Regions from separate parts of the Homo sapiens genome. Here region 1 is linked to region 2. The links come from fine-mapping of genetic effects on gene expression. A gene starts in region 2. The other region holds a variant in brackets. All regions are shown on one strand. Distances are between the middles of the regions. Region 1 has its middle 320 kb from the start of LINC02963. Region 2 holds the start of LINC02963 (long intergenic non-protein coding RNA 2963).

Evidence for each region. PIP is the estimated chance that this variant, and not a neighbour inherited with it, causes the effect. A credible set is the group of variants that fine-mapping cannot tell apart.
Region 1: its variant is the best candidate, but not a certain one, in a credible set for the expression of LINC02963 in whole blood (TOPMed, PIP 0.63).

What each region holds. Positions count from the first base shown.
Region 1 is chr12:34,539,427-34,544,802 of GRCh38, reverse strand. No RefSeq gene overlaps it. Among named protein-coding and RNA genes, the nearest start is that of LINC02963, 320 kb to the right of the region's middle. The variant G/A (reference allele first, on the strand shown) is at 2,716.
Region 2 is chr12:34,217,011-34,222,386 of GRCh38, reverse strand. LINC02963 (long intergenic non-protein coding RNA 2963) reads left to right here and starts at 3,176. Exons shown (of 5, transcript NR_185896.1): 1 at 3,176-3,261; 2 at 3,542-3,606. RefSeq lists enhancers at 2,999-3,499, 3,573-3,722, 3,500-4,000.

The DNA of each region.
Region 1 (5,376 bases), 320 kb before region 2:
GAGAAATGGTTTTGTGATGTGTGCATTAATCTCAGAGTTAAACCTTTCGTTTCATTCAGCAGTTTGGAAACATGGCTTTTGTCCATTCTGCAAATGGGCTTTTGGGAGCTCATTGAGGCCTACGGAGAAAAAGCGAATATCCCAAGATAAAATCTAGAGGGAAGCAATCTAAGAAACCACTTTTTGATGTTAATCCTTTCTTTGAATTCAGCATGTTCAAAACACTGTTTTTGTAGAAACTGCAAGGGTATATTTGGGAGTGAAAAGAGCCCTACAGAGGAAAACAAAATATCTTCAGATAAAAACTAGAAAGAAGCTTTCTGAGAAACTGCTGTGAGATGTGTTCATTGATCTCACAGAGTTCAAAGTTTCTTTTGATACAGCAGTTTAGAAACACTGTTTTTGTCCATTCTGCGAATGGGCATTTCGGATCTCATTGAGGCCAATGGTGAAAAAGCAAATATCTGACGATAAAATCTTGCGCAAAGTTATATGAGAAACCACTTTGTAACATGTGCATTCATCTCGCAGTGTTAAACCTTTCTTTTCCTTCATCAGTTTGGAAATACTGTTTTTGTAGAATCTACGATAGGATATTTTGGAGGGCATTGAGGCCTGTGGTGAAAAAGAAAATATCTGCAGATAAAAACTAGAAAGAAACTTTCTGAGAAACTCTTTCATGATATGTTCATTCATCTCACAGAATTAAAACCCTTTTTATTCAGCAGTTTAGAAGTACTGGTTTTGTCCATTCTGTGAATTGACATTTGGGCGCTCATTGAAGCCAATGGCAAAAAACAGAATATTGCAGCATAAAAAATAGTAGGAAGTTATCTAAGAAAATGCTTTGTGATGTGTGAATTCATCTCGTATAGTTAAACATTTCTTTCCATTCAGCCGTTTAGAAACACTGTTTTTGTATATTCTGCTTAGGGGTATTTGAGAGCACATTGAGGTCTGTGGTGAAAAACAAAATATCTTCAGATAAAAACTAGAAAGAAGCTTTCCCAGAAACTGCTTTGTGATGTGTGCATTTATCTACCTGAATTAAACTATTGTTTGGATTCAGCAGTTTGGAAACACTCTTTTTGTCCTTTCTGTGAATGGACATATTGGAGGTCATTGAGACCAGTGGTGAAAAAGTGAATAACCCATATAAAAACTAGAAGGAAGCTGTCTGAGAAACTGCTTTGTGATGTCTGCTTTCATCTCACAGATTTAATCCTTTCTTTTCATGCAGCATTTTGGAAACACTGTTTTCGTAGAAACTGCAAAGGGATATTGGAGTGCATGGAGGCCTGTGGTGAAAAAGGAAACATCTTCAGATAAAAACAAGAATGAAGCATTGTAAGAAACTACTTTGTGATGTGCGCATTCATCTCACAGAGTTAAAATTTGCTTTTCTTTCAGCAGTTTGGAAACACTGTTTTTGTAAATTATGCAAAGGGATATTTGGGAGACCATTGAGGCCTATGGTGAAAAAGGAAACATATTCAGATAAAATCAAGAATGAAGCATTGTGAGAAACTGCTTTGTGATGTGTGCATTCATCTCATAGAGTTAAAATTTGCTTTTCTTTCAGCAGTTTGGAAACACTGTTTTTGTAAAATCTGCAAAGGGGTATTTGGGAGACCATTGAGGCCTATGGTGAAAAAGGAAATAAATAAAGATAAAAACTTGAAAGAAACTTTCAGAGAAACTACTTTGTGATTTGTGCATTCATCTCACAGATTTAAACCTTTCTTTTGATTCAGCAATTTGGAAACACTGTTTTTGTCGACTCTGTGAATGGACATTTGAGAGTATGTCGAGGTCAATGGAGAAAAAGTGAATATCCCAGGAAACAAACTAGAAGGAAGCTACCAGAGAAACCCCGTTGTCACGTGTGCATTCATCTTACAGACTTTAACATTGATGCAACCAGTGAAAAAGGAGACATCTGCAGATAAAAACTAGAAAGAAGCTTGGTGAGAAACTGCTTTGTGATGTGTGCATTCATCTCACAGATTTAATCATTTCTTTCCTCTCAGCAGTTTGGAAAACCTGTTTTTCTTGAATCCTTGAAGGGATATTTGGGAGCGCATGGAGGCCTATGGTGAAAAAGGAAACTTCTTCAGATAAAAACAGAAATAAGCTTTCTAATAAACTGAATTTTGATGTGCACTTTCATCTCACAGAGTTAAAACTTTATTTGGATTCAGCACTTTGGAAACATCGTTTTTTTCCATTCTGCCAATGGATATTTGAGAGCTCATTGAGGCCAATGGTGAAAAAGCGAATATCACAAGATAAAAATTAGAAGGAAGCTCTCTGAGAAACCACTTTGTGATGTGTGCATTCACCTCACAAAGATAAAACATGCTTTTCTTTCAGCAGTCTGGAAACACTGTTTTTTTAGAATCTGTGAAGGGATATTTTGAAGCACAATAAGGCCTATGGTGAAAAAGGAAACATCTTCAGATAAAGACAAGAAATAAGCTTTCTGAGAAACTGCTTTGTAATGTGTGCATTCATCTCAAAGAGTTAAATCTTCCTTTGGATTAAGCAGTTTGGAAACAGTCTTTTTGTCCACTCTGCAAATGGAAATTTTTGAGCTCATTGAGGCCAATGGTGAAAGAGAGAATATCCCAAGATAAAAACAAGAAGGAAGCTATCATAGAAACCGCTTTGTGACGTGTGCATTCATCTCACTGAGTTAAACATTTCCTTTCATTC[G/A]GCAGTTTGTAAAAACTGTTTTTGTAGAAGCTGTAAAAGGATATTTGGGAGCACATTGAGGCCTATGGTGGAAAGGGAAATATCTTCAGAAAAGGGAATATCTTCAGAAAAAAACAAGAATCTTTCTGAGAAACTGCTTTGTGATGTATGCATTCATCTCACAGTGTTTAAACTTTCTTTTGTTTCAGCAATTTGGAAACACTGTTTTTGTCCATTCTATGAGTGGATATTTGGGAGCTTTTTCAGGCCATTGGCAAAAAAGGATTATCCCAGTGTAAAAACTAGGAAGAAGATTTCTTAGGAGCTGCTTTGTGATATGTGCATTCATCTCCCAGAGTTAAAACTTTCTTTGGATTCAGCAGTTTGGAAACAGTTTTTGTCCATTCTGCGAATTGCCATTTGGGAGCTCATTCAGGCTAAAGGTGAAAAAGTGAATATCTCAGCATAATAAATTGAAGGAAGGTATCTTAGAAACTGCTAGGTGATGTGTGTATTCATCTCACAGATGTAAAACTTTCTTTTCATTCAGCAGTTTGGAAACACTGTTTTTGTAGAATCTGCAAGGGGATACTTGGGAGCACATTGAGGCCTGTGGTGAAAAATGAAACAACTTCAGATAAAAACTAGAAATAAACTTTCTGAGAAACTGTTGTGATGTGTGCATTCAAATCACAGAGTTAAACCTTTCTTTTTATTCAGCATGTTGGAAACACTGTTTTTGTTAATTCAGCAAATGGACATTTGGGAGAGCATTGAGGCCAATGGTGAAAATGTAAATTTCCCAGGTTTACAACTAGAAGGAAGCTATCTGAGAAACCATTTATGATGTGTGTATTCATCTTGCAGAGTTAAACCCTTCTTTTAATACAGCAGTTTGGAAACTGCAGAATGTCCATTCTGCAAATGGACATTTGGAAGCTCATTGAGGCCAATGGCAAAAAAGTGAATAAGCCAGGATAAAAACTAGAAGAAACCACTGAGAAACCACTTTGTGAGGTGTGCATTCATTGCATAGAGCTAAAACTTTCTTTTCATTCAGCAGGTTGAAAACACTGCTTTTGTAGAATCTGTGAAGGGATATTTGAGAGCACATTGGGGCCTATGGTCAAAATGGAAACAATTCAGATAAAAACTACAAAGAAGTTTCTGAGAAACTGCTTGTGATGTGTGCATTCATCTCAAAGTGTTAAACCTTACTTTTTATTCAGCACTTAGGGAACACTATTTTTGTCCATTCTGTGAATGGATATTTGGCAGCCCTTCTAGGCCAATGGCAAAGAAGTGAATATCCCAGGCTAAAAACTAGAAGAAAGCTTTCTGAGAAACTGATTTGTGATCTGTGCATTCATCTCACAGGATTAAAATTTTCTTTACATTCAGCAGTTTGGAAACACTGTTTTTGTCCATTCTGCGAATGGACATTTGGGAGCACATTGAGGTCAATGGTGAAAAACCGAATATCCCAGCATAAAACAAGGAAGAAATTCTCTGAGAAACTGCCTTGTGATGTGTGCATTCATCTAGCAGAGTAAAACTTTTTTTTCACTCAGGAGTTTTGAAAAACAGTTTTTGTCAGATCTGCCATTTGTTATTTGGGAGAGAATTGAGGACTATGGTGAAAAAGGAAACATCTTCAGATAAAAACTAGAAAGAAGCTTTCTGAGAAACTGCTTAGTGATGTTTGCATTCACCTCACAGAGATAAACCTTTTCTTGGGTTCAGCAGGTGGAAACACTGTTTTTGTGCATTCTGTGAATGGACATTTAGGAGCTCATTGAGGCAAATGGCAAAGAAGGGAGTATTCCAGCATAAAAACTAGAAGGAAGCTCTCTGAGAAACCAATTTGTGATGTGTGCTTTCACCTCGCAGAGTTAAACCTTTCTTTTCATTCAGTAGTTTGGAAACACTGTTTTTGTAGAATCTGTGAAGGCATATTTGGGAATGCATTCAGGCCCATGGTGAAAAAGGAATCCCATTCAGATAAAAAATAGAAAGAAACTTTCTGCGAATGTGCTTTGTGATATCTGCGTTTATGTCACAGAGTTAAACCTTTCTTTGGATTCAGCAATTTGGAAACATTGTTTTTGACCTTTCTGTGAATGGACATCTGGGAGCTCATCAAGGCCAATGGTGAAAAAGTGAATATCCCAGGATAAGAAGTAGAAGGAAGCTATTAGAGAAACCACTTTGTGATGTGTGGATTCATCTCTCAGAGTTAAATATTGTTTTAAATTCAGCAGTTTGGAAACACTGTGTTTGTGGAATCTTCGAAGAGATATTTGGGAGTGCTTGGAGGTCAATGGTGAAAAAATGAATATCCCACAATAAAAACTAGAAGGAAGCTACCTGATAAACCACTTTGTGCTGTGTGCATCCATCCTGCAGAGTTAAACATTTCTTTTCGTTCATCAGTTTGGAAACACTGTATTTCTAGGATCTATGAAGGGATATTCGTGAGTTCATTGACATCAACGGTGAAAAAGGAAACATCTTCAGATAAAAACTAGAAGGAAACTTTATGAGAAACTGCTTCGTGAAGTGTGCATTCATCTCACAAAGTTAAACTTTTCTTTTGATTCAGCAGTTTGGAAACCCTGTTTTTCTCCATTCTGTGAACAGACATTTGAGAACTCATTGTGGCCAAAAATGAAAAAGTGAATA
Region 2 (5,376 bases):
AACCCCCCAAACCCAAAATTGCCAACAGGAAGAAGGCAGAAGCAAAACAGGTGCTCATGGCTGCCAGAGATTTGTGGGCCCTGCCTGGAGTAGAAGTCTAAATGCTGGCTCTGCATTGAAGACATGAGGGAATTTCTTTGCCTTGCTCTTGCCCCAGCTCCCTTTAACTGCATACCACGGTACCTCTTTCCTTTCTAGGTGATAATGCCCCATCCATAAGCAGGTTACTAACAAAAAACTCCTCTCCAAACACCTACAGGGGGAAGGTCCCCTTTTACTGAGCACCATGGCTACAATTTTAACAGTTACTGCAAAATAAAAGTTGCTACATTCTCATAATGATGGGTTTTCCCATAACCTGAAAAATTATTCACCGAGTGTCTGTAGCCAGGATGAAAAACACCCTTAAAGTTTAGATATGCATCAGTATTTCCCTCAAGAATAGCACAGGTTAAAGCTTTTATAAAGAGAAAAAAAAATAAGGAGTTGAAAAACATATAAATATAAATAAATAGCCACAAAAAGGGGAAGTTAGAGAGAGACTATGAAAACATCTTAGTCTTGAGGAAACATACAATCTGAGAAGCGATTCTGCAGGACTTGGCTGAAAGTCAATGGGAGGCTGATCAAATGAAGTGATAGAAGTCATGTAATTTGTCATATTAAGCATCTGCAACAAACCCACGTAGAATCCAAGGAATGTAGGTGATCTGACAAAAGGCCTCATGTTTAAAATTTGCCCTAAGCTTCCCCAAATCCACCAAAAATTTCCCCGTATGAGCCACCTTTTCAGATACAGTTTAGCTATCTGTTCTTGTGACACTAGGTTCATTTAAAGAGTTCTTGGGAGCCACGTGGGGTGGCTCACGCCCATAATCCCAGCACTTTGGGAGGCCATGCACAGCAGGTGGATCACTTGAGGTCAGGAGTTCAAGACCAGCCTGGCCAACATGGTGAAACCCCGTCTCTACTAAAAATGCAAAAATTAGCAGGGCGTGCTGCCATCAGCCTGTAATTCTAGTTACTCAGGAGGCTGAGGCGGGAGGATTGTTTGACTCTGGGAGGCAGAGGTTGCAGTGAGCTGAGATCACGCCACTGCACTCCAGCAGCCTGGTTGACAGAGCGAGACTGCCAAAAAAAAAAAAAGTTATTGGGGCTGGGTGCAGTGGCTCACGCCTGTAATCCTAGCACTTTGGGAGGCTAAGGTGGAAGGATGGTTTGAGGTGGGGAGTTTGAGACCAGCCTGGGCAACATAGTGAGACATCATCTCTGCCAAAAAAGAAAAAAAATCCATGTTGAGGCATTTTGTGTAAAAATAGAAAAAATTTCCTGGGCGTAGTGGTGTGCACCTGTAATCCTAGCTACTTGGGAGGCTGAGCCTGGAGGGTTGCTTGAGCTCCAGGAGTTTGATGCTGCAGTGAGCTATGATTGTGCCACTGTGTTCCAGCCTGGGCAATAGAAGGAGACCCTGTTTCAAAAAAAAAAAAAAGAAAAAAAGGCTGGACACACTGGCTCACGTCTGTGATCCCAGCACTTTAGGAAGCCAAGGCAGGTGGATCACCTGAGGTCAGGAGTTCGAGAACAGCCTGACCAACATGGTGAAACCCTGTCTCTAGTAAAAATACAAAATTAGCCAGGCATGGTGGCACATGCCTGTAATCCCAGCTACTTGGGAGGCCCAGGCAGGAGAATCACTTGAACCTGGGAGGTGGAGGTTGCAGTGAGCTGAGATTGGGCCATTGCACTCCAGCCTAGGCAACAAGAGCAAAACTCTGTCTCAAAAGAAAAAAATCTCTCTTTTTTTTACTGTTACAATGACAATAATAGAGGCTTTTCTCTCCAGGAGCTCTAAGTGAAATTAATGAGAATTCTCATGACCCTAGAAAGAGAGATTTAAAAAACACATAGCGCAGGTGTGGCGGCTCACACCTGTAATCCCAGCACTTTGGGAGGCTAAGGCGGGTGGATCCCTTGAGGTCAGGAGATCAAGACCAGCCTGGCCAACATGGTGAAACCCCAGTTCTACTAAAAATACAAAAATTAGCTGGGCTTGGTGGCACGCTTGCCTTTAGTCCCAGGTACTCGAGGGGCAGAAGCAGGAGAATCACTTGAACCCGGGAGATGGAGGCTGCCGCAGAGAGCTGATATCAAGCCACTGCACTCCAGCCTGGGCAACAGAGCCCATATAATTATTTGTATCTTTTTTTTTTTTTTTTGAGAGGTACTTTCACTCTTGTTGTCCAGGCTGGAGTGCAATGGCGCGATCTCGGCTGGCTGCAACCTCCGCCTCTCGGATTCAAGCGATTCTCCCACCTCAGCCTCCTGGGTAGCTGGGATTACAGGCACCCGCCATCATGCCTGGCTAATTTTTGTATTTTTGTAGAGACAGGATTTCACCATGTTGGCCAAGCTGATCTTGAACTCCTGATCTCAGGTGATCCTCCCTCCTCAGCCTCCCAAAGTGCTGGGATTACAGGCGTGATCCACCGCGTCTGGAGAGTTCTCTTTTCTTTGCGAAGGGCAAGGCGGACTAGAATGGATTCACCCAACAGCGGTGCGCATGCCCTAAAAGCATTATGGTTAGATCCATGTCAGACAGGTTAGTTTTACTGTTTGCGTTCCCCTTGTGTTGTTGCCCATGTGTTGCTACCATGGTAATCCTGCTCAGTACGAGAGGAACCGCAGGTTCAGACATTTTGTGTATGTGCTTGGCTTTGTTGGCCTTGGATAGGCGGTCCTCTGCCGTCCCCTCCGGCGGGCCGCTCTGCCTCAGGAGGGGCATGTCCCGCCATGCGCCGGGAACCAGGATCCGGTGCAGAGAGCCCCTCATCGTAGGAAATGGGCTGCTGCCAGAAGGGCGGTCACCCCCTGACCCATCACATAACGTGTTTTTGGGGAACCGGATGCTAAACTATTTGTAGACATCCTGCTTCTGGGTCAGGGTTTTCTATGGAGCAGAGCAGCTCCCTCGCTGCGATCTATTGAAAGTCAAACCTCCACACAAGGTTCCCTGCACCCGTGCGCGGGGGACCTGGTGATGTGGCGTGTCCTGTGTAATTCAGCCCTTGACGTCTACCTTCCTTCCTTTCTCCTGTTATACCCGGAACCTAGTTTCCTCGCCCGCTCATGCCCACCGGACCCGGAGCCCCGAAGCACGCAGCAGGTGTCCCTCCCGAGAGACCACTGGTGCCCGCTGTGTCTTCGGGAGGCGCCCGTCCCCATCTGCGGGCTTTCCAAGGTGCTGTGCTGGGGTTTGCCGAGGTAGGGGTGTCGCCCATGCTCGTCGTTCCCTCTCCAATTCCGCCTCCTTCCTGCACCCCGCTTTGACCTCCTTCAGGGGCTGGGATCGGATTTATCGGGCCTGGTGAGAATGGCTGAGGCGTGGGTGTCAGAGGGTGTGCCCCTGTGGTTCCTGTCCGAGTAGTGTTCACGCATGCCCAGTGGTGGCCACTGGGGTCACGGCCCCTCTACCCGCCCCAGGCGCGCGGGAATGGGACAGGAGCCAGTCACTGCCTTTCTGTCTTTCCTCCTCTCTCCGCAGCCCGGGTCAACCAGCCGACGGTGGCGGAACGGCGGGCAGGTCGGCGGAGTTAGATGGCCGCAAAGGTGGGCAGGCTCGGTGTGATAAGGTTCCAACTGGGTCTGATCGCTTCCGTCCGCGAGCGCCGGGTCCACCAAATGTCGGCGGCGAGCGCTGGCTTTGATGGTTAACTTGGGATTTCTAAGGTAGAACAGATCTCTCTGGTCAGCAGCACTACCACCTGCATCCACTAGATGTCGTTCTCTCACTACGTCGTTTCTTCCTCTCCAATTGTTTCCACAGTACTTTCAGTTGTCCTTCATTTTGTTTTTCTTTTTTCTTTTATGTTTCTTATTCCTCTTTTTACACACTGAAGCTGCTGTTGTTTTACCTTTATTTTTCTTTTTTGAGAAAGGTTGGAGTATGAGAATGTAATCTCGGCTCACCGCAGCCTCGACCTTCCTGGGCTCCCTCAGGTGATCTTGCTATCTCAACCTTCCAAGTGGCTGAGACTGCAGGAATTGCTTGATTCTGGGATGTCGAAGCTGCAGTGAGCCATGATCACGCCATTGGCCTCAAGCCTGAGTGACAGAGAAAGACCCTGTTTCAGAAAGTAAGAGAGACAGGTTAAAGAAATAACTCCTTGAAATTATTGCTATTAATTGTGATCTAAATTATCTTTTATATTTTTATATTTTTCACTCCTACTAGTTTATTATTATTGTTGTTGTTAGTATTTCTTTGTATTATTGTTTGTTATTATTGTTATTGTTTTTATTATTTAGTTATTTAGAGATGGAGTCTTGCTCCATCACCCAGACTGCAGTGCAGTGGCACGACCATGGCTGACTGTAGCCTCAAATTCCCGGATTCAAGTTCGAGACCAACCTGGGCAATATGGCAAAACGCCATGTCTACTAAAATCTGTCACTGTATACCCCCAGGGCCGTTGGATATGGCAGGTGCAAGTTCGGAGGCTGAGGCAGGCAGTTCGCTAGAGTTCGGGAGTTCGAGACGAGCCTGGGCAACAGGCTGCAGTACATTTGCCTGACCAAGGCCCACCGCAGCCTCCACCTCCCGAGCCCAAGAGATGCTCCCACCTCAGGCTCCAAAGGAACTGGGGCTACAGGCGCCTGCCATCACACCCAGCTAACTTTTTAATTTTTTTTTTTTTTTTTAAGTAGAGACGTGGTCTCACTGTGTTGCCAGGGCTGGTCTCAAACTGCTGGACTCAAGCGATTCTTCCACCTCAGCCTCCCAAAGTGTTGGGAGTATAGGCATAAGCCATGTTGTGCTGCCTTGTTTTTTATTTCCTTCATCTTTCTTTTTTTCTTTCACTTTCTTTCCTTTTCTTTCTTTTCTTTTTCTTCTCTCTCTTTTTCTTCCTCCCTTTTTTCTCATTTCTCATTCTCTTCTTCTGTTTCTCTGCCTTTCTATTTTCTTTTTCATCTTTCTTCCCTTTACATCTCTGTCTCTCTTGATCTTTTCTGCTCTCTCTCTTTTCTCAATTTGTTTCCTCCCATCCCTCTGTCTGTCCGTCTTTGTGTGGATTCTGGAAGAATCTCCTTATTCTGTATCCCCTGTGTATGTATCACAAGCCTCTAAGACTTTCGCTTTGTTGTTTTTCCTCCTTGTTGCATAAAATGTATTCACTCTTCTTTTATTTCAGTATTCTGTGGACAGTCGAGGGCTGGAAAAAAAACAGAAACATGAATTTGATTGGTTTCACAAGAGACATGGCAGACCAAAGAACATACGATGAGTACTTTGCTAAATGCCCTGTTTATTCTCCCAACCGGGCTCATAAAAGTACGGACACATTTGGTGGGTTGAGAGATCTCTATGTAGTCGTGACC